2 linked regions of the Homo sapiens genome follow. The protein of the gene in region 1 interacts with the protein of each later gene in a biochemical or structural test. Each region holds a gene or a part of one and is shown on either strand. Other genes may lie near its edges. The genes, in order: IFT172 and LHX4.

The links.
Region 2: the proteins of IFT172 (region 1) and LHX4 form a complex in vitro, tested with the Homo sapiens proteins (one study listed by BioGRID).

Annotation. Positions count from the first base shown.
Region 1 is NC_000002.12:27,479,430-27,483,243, forward strand, and holds part of IFT172 (intraflagellar transport protein 172 homolog), read right to left. Parts: intron 1,832-3,814; coding exon 1,617-1,831; intron 721-1,616; coding exon 597-720; intron 176-596; coding exon 80-175; intron 1-79. UniProt on the Homo sapiens protein: Required for the maintenance and formation of cilia. Plays an indirect role in hedgehog (Hh) signaling, cilia being required for all activity of the hedgehog pathway.
Region 2 is NC_000001.11:180,271,570-180,275,383, forward strand, and holds part of LHX4 (LIM/homeobox protein Lhx4), read left to right. Parts: exon of another isoform or gene 1-265; coding exon 266-437; exon of another isoform or gene 438-2,615; coding exon 2,616-3,010; 3' UTR 3,011-3,814. UniProt on the Homo sapiens protein: May play a critical role in the development of respiratory control mechanisms and in the normal growth and maturation of the lung. Binds preferentially to methylated DNA.

The sequences.
Region 1 (3,814 bases):
TGGCCAGAAGGCAGGGAAATGTTATAAGGAGGAATGAGCCACGCAAGTTCTCAGTGCAGTAGGCTACCATCCTGCTTACCTGGCTAGGTCCCACATACGTCAACTCAAACTTGTTCTTGTAAATACTCCTTCGGAGGCAGCAGTCAAACTGTTCCACCCCACCACATAGTGTGCCCTAGAAGGGAAAGTGACAGCATAAAAGGTCACACACATAGTACACTGGCATGGGGAGAGTATCTAGAGACATCCTCAAAACCTAAGCTCTAGAGTCTAGAGAAGAGTTGGCAGTGAAAGAGCTGGCAGTTTTTGGAATTACCAAAAGGAAAGAGGCTACAATCATTGGACTCAAGGGCACAACATATTAATGGGATAAAAGGGAAAAACTAGCCCTGCCTACACACAATTTTTTGTCCCTTTTGTGACCTAGGGTAAAGTATGAATTTCTCTTTCCTGCCTTTAATGCCAGAATTTTAGGTCAGGGTCAAAAGGAAAGAGGAGATTCTATAGTGTCAGGGAACAGTGCTTTAGGATAAGGCAGGATTTTTTTCTAGTTTGGTGAAAGTCACCAATCCAGAAAGGGATTACTAGTAACACACCACACAGAGCCGTGAGCCATCCCGCTTCCAGGCCAAGGCAGTGATGGTGTATAAATTGGTAATCTCCTTGGGCTTTGCCTCTTCCCAGATGCTTCTTCGAGGGATCCAGTTGAACACCCGAAGCCTGAAATAAAGTATGTGGCTTTTAGAAGAGATTGAGGCTGAGCTAAAGAGTGCAAATGGGCTGATAACCAAAGGAAATTAGTCTTGCTATATCAGAAAAGAAAGGAAATAAAAAGAACAGACAAGCTAGGCAGTCTAGCAGAAGAGGATATAAAGGTGCACAGGAAATAAGCTGGGAAAATCAAGGCAAAACTAAAACAGAATAAGAGTGAGGGGAGCAGAGAAAACAAAAAGACCAGGGCAGGTGAGAAAAATAAGCTACTAGGAGCAAAAAAATATGGAACAAGGAGATAAATGGTAGGAGTCAGTGAAGAAAGAAGAGAATACAAGGAGACATAAGATTGAAGGGGATAGAAAGACAGGACTGATAAAGCTGGGGTTAAACACATGCCAGAGAAATGATGAGACCTGGAACATGGCTGTTTATCTGCTGTTCCATCATTCATTCATTCATTCGCCAAACATCTGAGCATATCTTAAATATATATAGCATATAGATGCTAATCTAGGCACTGAAAAGATGAATAATAAGCCCCCTTCTCAAGGACTCTGATTTAGCCATCTATCTGGCTAAACAACAGTAGTTTGCAAACAACAAACTGTAATATAATGTGAGAAACTCTAAGCGGTCTCAAAGGGGGCAATGGAAACAGAAAATAGAGATGAATTCTGCTGTGGAAGTGCAGGGAGCGGCACAGAGACAAAACAAGAGCCCAGGACATTTTGGAACTGCCAGCACACCAATGGATAGCGGGAGCAGGAAGAGGAAAGCGCATGAATTACATACATACATTTGATTCTGCTCCAGTCTCGCACTCTGGCTCAGAATAATTTGGCTAAAGCAGAGAGTGTTCGCAGGGAAAGTAGGCAGTAGATAAAACTGGAAAGGGGACTTACCTGTCATAACTTCCTAGCACAACAGACTGGCCCCCAGGACTTGATACAGCTGTGGTGAACTCCCGCTCCTGAGGGTCACGGCTATAATCAAAAGTTTGTAGCATGTGACCTTCTTTTCCATAGGCTACAATTTTCCGATCACAGCCTGCAGCCACGATGCTATTGGTTGCCCATGCCAAGGCATAGGGTGGACACGGGTGGTTAACCAACTTCCCCTAAGACAGAAGTAGAGGGTTTCAATCACTCTTCGAAGACTCCACCCGAGAAATTCCTCACTCTCAACACCTGGTACATTCACTCTGACCATCATACCCTGCAGAAATCTCTTCCAACATTTCCCTATCCCAACACATCCTAATCCTGAACTCTTCACAAATTGTCACACACACACACACACACACACACACATACACACACACACACACCCCTATACACATAGGGGTTGACCTTGTGCTCTAGAAAAACCTCAAAATGCTTGTATATTGGAATTTTCTTTTTTCTTTTTTTTTTTTTTGAGACAGAGTCTCACTCTGCCGCCCAGGCTGGAGTGCAGTGGCACAATCTCATCGCTGCAACCTCCGCCTCCCCAGGTTCAAGCGATTCTCCTGTCTCAGCCTCCTGAGTAGCTGGGATTACAGGTGTGTGCCACCATACCAGGCTAATTTTTCTGTTTTTAGTAGAGATGGGGTTTCACCATGTTGGTCAGGCTGGTCTCGAACTCCTGACCTTGTGATCAGCCCGTCTCAGCCTCCCAAAGTGCTGGGATCACAGGCGTGAGCCACCACGCCCAGCATGTATTGGAAATTTTTAATATGCACCTGGTAAAGCTCCTCAGAAAAGGAGATGTGCTACACATTAACCAACACCGTCTGGGCCCACAAAGAGCATAGGGCTTCTTTTTTTAAGGAGGGTCAAATTTCAGTATTATACGAATAATTCTTCTTTTTTTTTTTTTTTAGATGGAGTCTCACTCTGTCGCCGGGGCTGCAGTGCAGTGGCGCGTTCTCACCTCACTGCAACCTCCCCTCCCGGGTTCAAGCAATTCTCCTGCCTCAGCCTTCCGAGTAGCTGGGATTCCGGGCACGTTCCACCATGCCCGGCTAATTTTTATATTTTTAGTAGAGACGGGGTTTCACCATGTTGGCCAGGCTGGTCCTGAACTCCTGACCTCAGGTCATCCACCCGCCTTGACCTCCCAAAGTGCTGGGATTACAGGAGTGAGACACTGTGCCCGGCCTATACAAGTAATTCTTTTTTTTTTTGAGATGGCATTTCACTCTTGTTGCCCAGTCTGGAGTTCAATGGCATGCGATCTTGGCTCACTGCAACCTCTGCCTCCCAGGTTCAAGCGATTCTCCTGCCTCAGCCTCCCAGAAAGCTGGGATTACAGGCATGTGCCACCACGCCCAGCTAATTTTTTTGTATTTAGTAGAGACGGGTTTCACGTCAGGCTGGTTTCCAACTCCTGACCTCAGGTGATCCACCCGCCTCGGCCTCCCAAAGTGCTGGGATTACAGGCACGGCTCACAAGTAATTCTTAATGTAAATGATTCAAACAACACACAATTATATAGAGTAAAACATGAAAGTTTCCTTTTTATCCCCCATCTTTTTCCTTTCCCCTTTCCAGAGTAAACTATTAACTCTTTTTTCTATGAATCTACATACATAAATATATATATTTTACATAAATGGGAATAATTTTCACTTTTCATTACTCTAAGAGTTTTTATTTCCCTTTGTCTCAAGGTCCCTTTCACCTAATTCATCCCTTCTTATAAGCAGTAAGCTCCAGGCTCCTAAACACAAATCCTCTCAGTGGCCACATCCAACTTTTTCTCTGTCCCTGAGTTCTCCTCTAGCTTCCTCTCTTAGTATCTCAATCCAAATGCCTTAGAAGTCCAACCTCCTCTAGGAGGGCTCCTGGAATTTCCTTATCCCCTATTCCACAGCATCTTTTTTTTTTTTTTTTTTTGAGACACGGTCTTGTTCTGTCACCCAGGCTGTAGTGCAGTGGTGCTATTTCAGCTCACTTGCAGGCTCAACCTCCTGGGCTCAAGTGATCTTTCCACTTCGGCTTCCTGAGTAGCTGGGACTACAGGCCCATGCCACCATGCCCGACTAATTTTTGTATTTATTTTTTGTTTTTTTGGTAGAGACAGGGTTTCACTGTGTTGCCCATGCTGGTCTCAAACTCC
Region 2 (3,814 bases), on another chromosome or scaffold:
CCAGGCCCGGGACAGGGGTGGAAGGTATCCTGAGTGACATCAGCTCACGGGTGGTTGGGCTCAGGGCTTGACCCCAGGGCTTTTGCCAGAACTGAAGACAGAGTTCTGAGGCCCACCTGGGGAGAGGGGGTGGGGCGCATCGCACTCCCAGACCTGTGCTCCATTCAGGCTTCAGTCTGCTTCCAGCCGCCCGCCTAGGGGGTCCTGGGGGCTTTGGGTTTGTGGTGGACGCCCCCTGAGTATGTCCCTTGTGCTTGTGTGGCAGGTTTGGTTTCAGAACAGAAGGGCCAAAGAGAAACGCCTGAAGAAGGATGCAGGGCGGCACCGCTGGGGGCAGTTCTATAAGAGCGTCAAGAGGAGCCGGGGCAGCAGCAAGCAGGAGAAGGAGAGCTCTGCAGAGGACTGTGGGGTTAGTGACAGTGAGCTGAGCTTCCGAGGTGAGCAGGGCTGGAGGGGCCAGGCCGAGGCCTTAGGAAAGTCCCCTGGGAATCTGTAATCCCTGGCACTCAGGAGGGATCTTTCTTGAGGCCTTGGCAACTCCCTCCTGAACACAGGCTTTTCCTTAAGACTTGCAGTGAAGGGTGGGGGAAATGGTAGTGGCCCTTTACCATGGGACAGGAGTAGGAAACAAGATTGCTGAGGTCTGGAAGCTGGGATGGGCCAGGCCCCGTCCTGTGGCCCCAAGGTCTCCCCTCCCCTCCTGCTGACTGGGGCCTCCCTCATCAGCCCACACAGCTATGAACAGATGACTGGGTTCCAGCCTTGTGCCCCTAGCCCCTCTCCCATCTTTGTCCCCTTTGCTGGGACACTGGCCTACTCCCATAGTCCCCTAGAGCCACCCCTTCCTCCAGTCCTGGTGGTGGGGAGGTCATGCTCCACAGGTTTTTTCCTGGGAAATCAGTACTGTGAGTGCATGTGAGATGGGGAACTGGCTTCACTTCCGAAATCCCTTTCCCCACCACTCACTTCATTCTGTCCCCTGCACACAAGCTTTGCAGCATGCACTATATTCAAATTCATGCATCAGCAAAATTGTAAATTACTGCATGTTATGAATCCTCAGGTTGTTTGCAAAGAATCATAACTGTTCTCAGGTACTGAGTTCTCAAATGTGGAAGGTCTTCTGCGGAGGGGGAAAGGGAAGAGTACTCAACTGGCGATCAGAGACCTGGTTTCCAGTGCAGCTCTGTCAAATCGATTCACTTCTCTTGAGCCCCAGTATTCCCAAGAGGAATACCATATCTTTGCCCATCTCACTGCGTTGTGGGGATCAATGAACACAACCAACTGTGGATGTGCTTGGGGAAAGCCTGGCACATTTGTATACCTGGAAGGCATGATCGTTCCCACAGGGAGCGTGTGGCTCCCGCAGAGGGCCCTGGTCATTTGGGATGACAGGTATAGGGAAAAGGCTAACTCATGGCCATTTGACAATGGAGTGGAGCCTTCATCTTCCTGCTCCCTTTAAAGAGCATGAGCTCCCCCCACCATGTTTTTTCATAAGGGGAATGGGGGGCAGGCCTCAGAAGGGATGGGGTGTTGAAGTCTAGTCTGGGGAGGCCTTATTTAGGGATTGGTGCAGAGGCCCAGGTGGAAATAGAAAAGGAAGTTTGTGGGACAGAGGATGGAACAAGTTGCCTGCCAGGACAACGATGCCCTGGGAGGACTCTAGTTCAGCCCAGAGGTCAGCTGAGCCCTAGAGGGCAGCCTCCTCTGAGAACACAGGGCCCGTGAGGCCTTGGGGACAGCTCATGGGACTAATACTCACCTTTTAGGCTTCTTGGCAGGATTGGGAAAGTCAATCTCATCTGGGCTGTTGAAGTCAACACCTAGAACATACTGGATTGTTAAGCTCATTTCTGTTGGGTGCAGGTGGGTCCCTGGGCTGACCTATCATTGGTTTCTCTGGGAATAATTTCTCAAAGACTAAAACTGCTCACCTCTGTTGGAGAGAGAAATTCTTTCAAGTGGCAAAGATTCCATTAGATCCCCTTAATGAAATTCTTTAAGAAAAAAGAAGGTTCATTTGCCTTAATCAAGTCAATTCTTTGTCCCCAGTGAAGAGCTTATTGAATACAGACAGAAACCAAGTCCTTTGATATTGAACCTCTCTTCCAGATAGACCAGAAGGATTTTGTACAGATGTCTAAGAGTGGTCCTCAGCTTCCCTGACCATATGGGCCTGCTTGCTTCCCAATCAACTAAACCAAGCCCTTTCTCAGCTTGAAAGCTTTCAGGGTAAATGTTGTCAGCATGTAGTTTCCATTTGTGATGTGGAGACATCTGACCCACCCAGCCTTAGGCATTCATCCTCCTCAGTGTAGCCAGAGTATTAGTACACGAGCCACAAGGGACCAACGAGCTCACCAAACATTTGTCCATCCTTCTGGGACCTGGGAATTTAGTCTTTGCAGGTGTTTCTTGTTTTTCTCCTTGGCCTGGGTTGGCCTCTGGATATCAGGCTGCCATATTGGTGTGTCTGACCCATGCTTGGCTGCAAGGCAGCTGCCATCCTTGGGCATCTTTCCTGGTCATGTGTGTTCCTAGGTTGTGAAGAGCAGGGGACCATCAGAGTCCTGGCAGCTGACAATAAATCTCCGTTCTTTTGTCCACAGAGGATCAAATTCTCTCAGAACTTGGCCACACCAATAGGATTTATGGCAACGTGGGGGACGTTACAGGCGGACAGTTAATGAATGGGAGCTTCTCCATGGACGGGACAGGACAATCCTATCAGGACTTGAGGGATGGGAGCCCCTATGGAATCCCCCAGTCTCCATCCTCCATATCGTCCCTGCCATCCCACGCTCCTTTGCTCAATGGGCTGGATTACACGGTGGACAGTAATTTGGGCATCATTGCGCATGCAGGGCAGGGAGTAAGCCAGACGCTGAGAGCCATGGCTGGGGGACCCACCTCTGACATCTCCACAGGAAGCAGTGTAGGCTATCCCGACTTTCCAACTAGCCCAGGCTCTTGGCTCGATGAAATGGATCATCCTCCTTTTTAAACTTCTCTCCTCCCCACCCTACCTGCCCCCCTGGCTTGAGAGAATATCTTCAAGGATCAAAAGAGACTTGCCTTTTAAGGATCGAAAGTACGCCAATGTGAATTTCCATTATTTTCAATGGAAGTCCTCCGCTGATTCCTAGAAGGCTGTGAGACCACACTAGGGCATTGTTTCCCTGGGGAAGCAGTGGGAGAGCAGACTCATCTCAGAACACAGCACAGGGGGTAATGGCCTAGAGCTCTAGGGACACTGGCTTGTTGGGTCTCTCCCCTGCTGTTCTGCTTAGGGGCTTGGCTGCTCAGTGCTTTGGTAGCACAAGGTGACTGTGATAGGCCCCCTTGGCCTTTGGGAACTTTGCTCCAACTGGTGTGTCTCACACAATGCCTCCCAAAACACTGCTCTCACCAGAACTGAGACTCCTAAGGTAGAGGCCTCACAGCCCTTGAGTAAAATAAAAGTGATTTCTGGACCATCCTTATTGAACCCTATATTTCAAAATGAAAAGATCAGTTATTAAAGGTCAGTGAACACTTTGATGGCCAGTTTGATATTAAAAACATGCCCCCTCCTTTTTTATTTTTGCTGTGAAGATATGAATTCTTTCCTACAAACCAGAGAATATGAACCTGTTTTGGTTTTTAAGTGTCCCATCTATATCATTGACTCTGATGGCAAGAGGTGGTTTTCATTGCAGGTGACTGAGGCTGAGCTGAGTAGCCCTGGACCACCGCTGCAGATTGCCTGAGTCGTCCCCTTGGTGCACAGTGTGCCTTCTTCAATTGCTTGTATCATTTATTCCACAAG